Regions from separate parts of the Homo sapiens genome. Here region 2 is linked to region 1. Evidence: fine-mapped expression QTL. A gene starts in region 1. The other region holds a variant in brackets. All regions are shown on one strand. Distances are from middle to middle. Region 1 holds the start of UBN2 (ubinuclein 2). Region 2 has its middle 4.4 kb from the start of IFT56.

Region 1 (2,918 bases):
TTACAATATGAACGAACTCCACAAAAAAGGAAAGCTAAAAAGGTTTTCCAATACCAACACGAGAGAAAAATTAGTAACCAGATTAACTAACCCACTTCTCCATTCCTAAAGTGGGATCCTTAGTCTCTGAAAACCTTTAATTATTCTTAAATTCCCTTCGATTAAGAAAAATATCACAGGCACGCAAGCACACCTCAGCAGCCACGGCGCCCAGCAAAACAAACAGTGATGAGGATGAGGATGATACGAGAGGGGTTACACAATCTCTGCTTCAGACTGGGGGGCGTGTCCCCCAAGGTTTTCTCTTCCTTTCTACTGGAACGACAGCTGTAGCGCCACAGGGAGAACCCAGCCACACGGCCTGCAGGGCCCCAGGATTTTGTGTGGGGAGCAGAAAGGAAAGAAGGAAAATCTGAGGTTCCGAAAGGTGCACAAGAAAACGAGCTCGGCGCGGCGTTGGGAGCGAGTGCCGGGGGTTTGGGGATTCGGCGCAGCCGGGTGAGAGCCTCGGCCACCCTGGGGAGTGGAGAAAGCAGCGCTCACCGCCCCGTCCACCCGCTCGGCCCCGGCCCCCCGCACCCCACCCTCGGGGCGACCCGGACGCGCTCGGTGGGCGTCCCAAGGTGCAAACCAGCTGGGGAAGGCGGCGGGTCCTGAGGCTCCCGGGGTCTGGGGCAGGAGGGAAGAATCTTCTGTACCCGTTGTTCTCCGCACAGCAGCAGCTCCGGGTAACTGAACTCCACGCAGCTCTCGTCGGTGGGGTCCTTAAGCACCAGCTCCAGGCGCACCGTCTCCCTCGGCGGCCGCGGCGGCTGCTCAGCCCGGGAAGCCGACTCCCGCGGCGGGGGCGGCTGCAAGGGCAGCGGCGGGAACGGCGGCGGCGGCTCGGGCCGCGGGGGCTCCCGCTGCAGCGACATGGGCGGCTCGGCGCGGCTGACCTCGCGCTGGGGGAGCGGCTTCTCCCGCGACGGGGGCTGCGCGTCCGAGCGGGGGGCAGGCTCCCGCGGGGCCGGCGGCTCCGCCCGGGCCGGCTCGCGGTACGGCTGCGGCTCCAGCCGGGGGGGCTCGCGGGGGTACTCGGGCTCACGCTCGGGCCCCGGGTACTCGGCCTCGCGCCGCCGCACCGGTGACAAGCTAATGAACGCTACTCTGCGCGGCTCCGCCATCCCCACTGTTCTGGCCCTCCGCTTTTGCTCGAGCCGGCGCTCGCTTCTACGGCGCGCTGCGTGCCTGCCCGCCCTTCCTCTTGCTCTCTGTCGCTTTTCTTCCCTCCACCACCCTCAGCCGTCTCCGCCGGCGCCACGGTGAGTGCGGACCGTGTCCCCTTCCCCGCTACTACGTTCTGATGGGCTTCACCGCCATCGCCAGGGTCGCCGCGGCCGCCATGTTGGATCCCCCACATAAATAGAAGCAGGCCGCTGAGCGGGCGCATGCGCACAGAGGAGACGCTCGCGTCCACTGTCGTGGCTGTTGCTCAGTTTTCCTCTTTTCCTCCCAACAGTCTGGAGTCCAGACAGGTCGGCGGAAGTGACGACATGGCTCGGCCTGTTTCCGTGGAAACGGAGACGCCGTCTGCACCCTTCCTCAAAGGGAGGGTTCTGGGGTTTCCCGAGCAGTTTACTATTCGCACCCGGAAACCAGAGGCGCTCCAGGAGCTTCCCGGGGCTAGCATCGGGATGGGACTGAGACCGACCTAGCCATTGGCGCCGGGTCTCCCGTGCTGGGTTCAAGGGAATTGGGGTTGTTAGCTGATTATTCAAGGCGGACTCTGGGCAAGGGTAGAGAGACGCGCCAGCCGTTGTGCCTGCCCGCCCTGTGTCCCCGTAGCCTTAAGTATCGAGGGAAAAAAGGAAGTGCCCAGCTTCAGCCAGACTAGCCCCAGCGGCTTCCCTCCCGAAAGCGCAGGCCTCCCCTTCCTCGACCTACTCCGGTTTCCCTCGCCCGGCCGCAGTGGGCGTTGCGTGGGGCAGGGTCATTAAATGTTCAATAACGCTTTGCAGTTGGAAAATTAACAAGCAGATGAGGAGTTCTGGGCTCATTCAGAAGGCCTAAACTGCTGAAATCATAGAAAACTTCTTAAGAGGGTTTAGTGGTATTTCAGGAAACGTACTGTTTATGAGAATGCTAAAGGACCCATTTCAGGATGGGGAAGGAATTGATTGGGCACGCCCCATAGGCTCACTTGTAATTAATTAATTGGAAGTCGGGTTTAAAAGGATAAGAATTACTGGCCATTTTAATCCATTGAATAAAAAGTAAATTTGAGGGCTCGCCCTTCACATCCTGAAGGGAATCCAAGCCTTCTGTTAATTGCATTAACTATTGAAAGCTCTTTTATTAAGTCAGTGTGACGTCATTGACAAATTCTGAGAGGGTTCCGTTTTTTCCTCTCCTGTTATTACTTTCCCTACTTGGACGAAGATGGTGATGAAATCTATGATTCCAAAGGTCTCTCCCAGCTCTAAAACCCTATCTTTTCTACTCGGCGCCATGTTTTACCTACATTATCTCCTTCCCTATTGCTCCTTTTCTGATTCTGAATTCGGGTCTCATTTTTAGATTGCCTTAGTGATACTTAAATGACCTTTCTGCCTTCAGTCTCTGTTCCCACCAGTCTTGAGACGGGGTCATATTAATGTCTCTAAAAGAGTTTTTATTATATCGTTCTCTGTTCTGGCTGCAACTTACCTACAAACTGAGTTCTATGTATGTATACTCATATTCAATATCCTCCACAATTTAGCTCAGAGACTGCAAACTGGTGGTCTGTGGGCCAAATCCTTCTACAGGTGTGTTACTTATCCAACATTATCTTCTAACTTCTCACCCACTGAGTTTTCCAACTTTTTGATCCATAACCCACAGTAAGACATTTTACACTGTAACCTAGAATATACACCCATATATACATAACACAT
Region 2 (2,918 bases), 100 kb after region 1:
ATGTGCACAACGTGCAGGTTTGTTACATATATATACATGCGCCATGTTGGTGTGCTGCACCCATTAACTCATCATTTACATTAGGTATATCTCCTAATGCTATCCCTCCCCCCTCCCCCCACCCCATGACAGGCCCCAGTGTGTGATGTTCCCCTTCCTGTGTCCAAGTGTTCTCATTGTGTCATAGCGTTCTCACTGTGTCATAGTGTTCAGTTCCCACCTATGAGTGAGAACATGCAGTGTTTGGTTTTTTGTCCTTGCGATAGTTTGCTGATAATGCTGGTTTCCAGATTCATCCATGTCCCTACAAAGGACATGAACTCATCCTTTTTTATGGCTGCATTGTATTCCATGGTATATATGTGCCACATTTTCTTAAACCAGTCTATCATTGATGGACATTTGGGTTGGTTCCAAGTCTTTGCTATTGTGAATAGTGCCACAATAAACATACGTGTGCATGTGTCTTTATAGTAGCATGATTTATAATCCTTTGGGTACATACCCAGTAATGAGATGGCTGGGTCAAATGGTATTTCTAGTTCTAGATCCTTGAGGAATCGTCACACTGTCTTCCACAATGGTTGAACTAGTTTACAGTCCCACCAACAGTGTAAAAGTGTTCCTATTTCTCCACATCCTCTCCAGCACCTGTTGTTTCCTGACTTTTTAATGATTGCCATTCTAACTGGTGTGAGATGGTATCTCATTGTGGTTTTGATTTGCATTTCTCTGATGGCCAGTGATGATGAGCATTTTTTTCATGTGTGTGTTGGCTGCATAAATGTCTTCTTTTGAGAAGTGTCTGTTCATATCGTTCGCCCACTTTTTGATGGGGTTGTTTGTTTTTTTCTTGTAAATTTGTTTGAGTTCTTTGTAGATTCTGGATATTAGCCCTTTGTCAGATGAGTAGATTGCAAAAATTTTCTCCCATTCTATAGGTTGCCTGTTCACTCTGATGGTAGTTTCTTTTGCTGTGTAGAAGCTCTTTAGTTTAATTAGATCCCATTTGTCAATTTTGGCTTTTGTTGCCATTGCTTTTGGTGTTTTAGACATGAAGTCCTTGCCCATGCCTGTGTCCTGAATGGTATTGCCTAGGTTTTCTTCTAGGGTTTTTATGGTTTTAGGTCTAACATTTAAGTCTTTAATCCATTTTGAATTAATTTTTGTATAAGGTGTAAGGAAGGGATCCAGTTTCAGCTTTCTACATATGGCTAGCCAGTTTTCCCAGCACCATTCATTAAATAGGGAATCCTTTCCCCATTTCTTGTTTTTGTCAGGTTTGTCAAAGATCAGATGGTTGTAGATGTGTGGTATTATTTCTGAGGGCTCTGTTCTGTTCCATTGGTCTATATCTCCGTTTTGGTACCAGTACCATCCTGTTTTGGTTACTGTAGCCTTGTGGTATAGTTTGAAGTCAGGTAGCATGATGCCTCCAGCTTTGTTCTTTTGGCTTAGGATTGTCTTGGCAATGCGGGCCCTTTTTTGGTTCCATATGAACTTTAAAATAGTTTTTTCCAATTCTGTGAAGAAAGTCATTGGTAGCTTGATGGGAATGGCATTGAATCTATAAATTACCTTGGGCAGTATGGCCATTTTCACGATATTGATTCTTCCT[G/A]TCCATGAGCATGGAATGTTCTTCCATTTGTTTGTGTCCTCTTTTATTTCGTTGAGCAGTGGTTTGTAGTTCTCCTTGAAGAGGTCCTTCGCATCCATTATAAGTTGGATTCCTAGGTATTTAATTCTCTTTGAAGCAATTGTGAATGGGAGTTCACTCATGATTTGGCTCTCTGTCTGCTATTGGTGTATAAGAATGCTTGTGATTTTTGCACATTGATTTTGTGTCCTGAGACTTTTCTGAAGTTGCTTATCAGCTTAAGGAGATTTTGGGTTGAGATGATGGGGTTTTCTAAATATACAATCATGTCATCTGCAAACAGGGACAATTTGTGTCTGTCTAATCTTTAGCTTTACTTTCTGATAGTCACATGTGAGTTAGTTGATATAAATCAGAATAACCAGGGCCATAAGCTCAGATATTTAATTCAAATTCCCTAGCAAAACAAATAGGATCCTGGTTAAGGTCGGGGAATTATTTAACTATGCCTTTAAGTTCTACCTTAGACCATGGTTGATAAACTAAAGCAGGTTTCCCTCTACCAGATGCTGGATGTTCATTAAATGAAGCCAAAAATGTGGGAGCAGGTGGAAGGGGAGGAGAGGGAAGAGAAGGTCAGTCTGGGCAAGGTAGTTGTGATAAGGAGGGATAGAGAGAAGGGGGAGCAGAAGGAGGAGAAGCAGCAGTTTCAGCAGCTTTTCTGAATAAAAGTTTTAGAGGCTTTTCATTCTCTTTCTATAGGAAAAGAACTCTGTCACAGCCTCTTTTGCATGCTTCTGGGTAGCATTGGAAATAACTCTCCAAATTATATTGTTTAATTCTGGAGCTGGCTTTTTCTAATTGTGCATGTGAGCAAACTAACTTAGGCATTTCACAAGTACCCTACTTTGGCCACTGTAATTCAGGGTCTTCTTGGGTCAAGTAAGACCATTTTTCCCAATACTGACAGGAGGTAGCAGGTGCGATGGCTCACACCTGTAATCTCAGCACTTTGGCAGGTTGAAGCAGGAGGATCACTTGAGCTCAGGAGTTTGAGATGAGCCTGGATGATGTAGTGAGACTGTCTCTATAAAAACTGAAAAAATTAGCCCAGCATGGGGGTGTGCCTGTGGTGCCAGCTACTCGGGAGGCTGAGGTGGGAGGATTGTTTGAGCCCCGGAGGTGGAGGTTGCAGTAAGCCGAGATCGTACTACTGCACTCCATCCTGGATGACAGAGTGAGACCCTGCCTCATAAAACATACAGACACACATACACACATATTTATGTATGTAGGTTGTTAGGTTGTGTGTATATATATA

The links. PIP is the estimated chance that this variant, and not a neighbour inherited with it, causes the effect. A credible set is the group of variants that fine-mapping cannot tell apart.
Region 2: its variant is the best candidate, but not a certain one, in a credible set for the expression of UBN2 in whole blood (TOPMed, PIP 0.61).

Annotation. Positions count from the first base shown.
Region 1 is chr7:139,229,733-139,232,650 of GRCh38, reverse strand. UBN2 (ubinuclein 2) reads right to left here and starts at 1,414. Exons shown (of 18, transcript NM_173569.4): 1 at 699-1,414. The coding sequence starts at 1,166. RefSeq lists silencers at 198-457, 404-623, 834-1,083 and enhancers at 1,254-1,393, 1,474-1,633.
Region 2 is chr7:139,127,880-139,130,797 of GRCh38, reverse strand. No RefSeq gene overlaps it. Among named protein-coding and RNA genes, the nearest start is that of IFT56, 4.4 kb to the left of the region's middle. The variant G/A (reference allele first, on the strand shown) is at 1,619.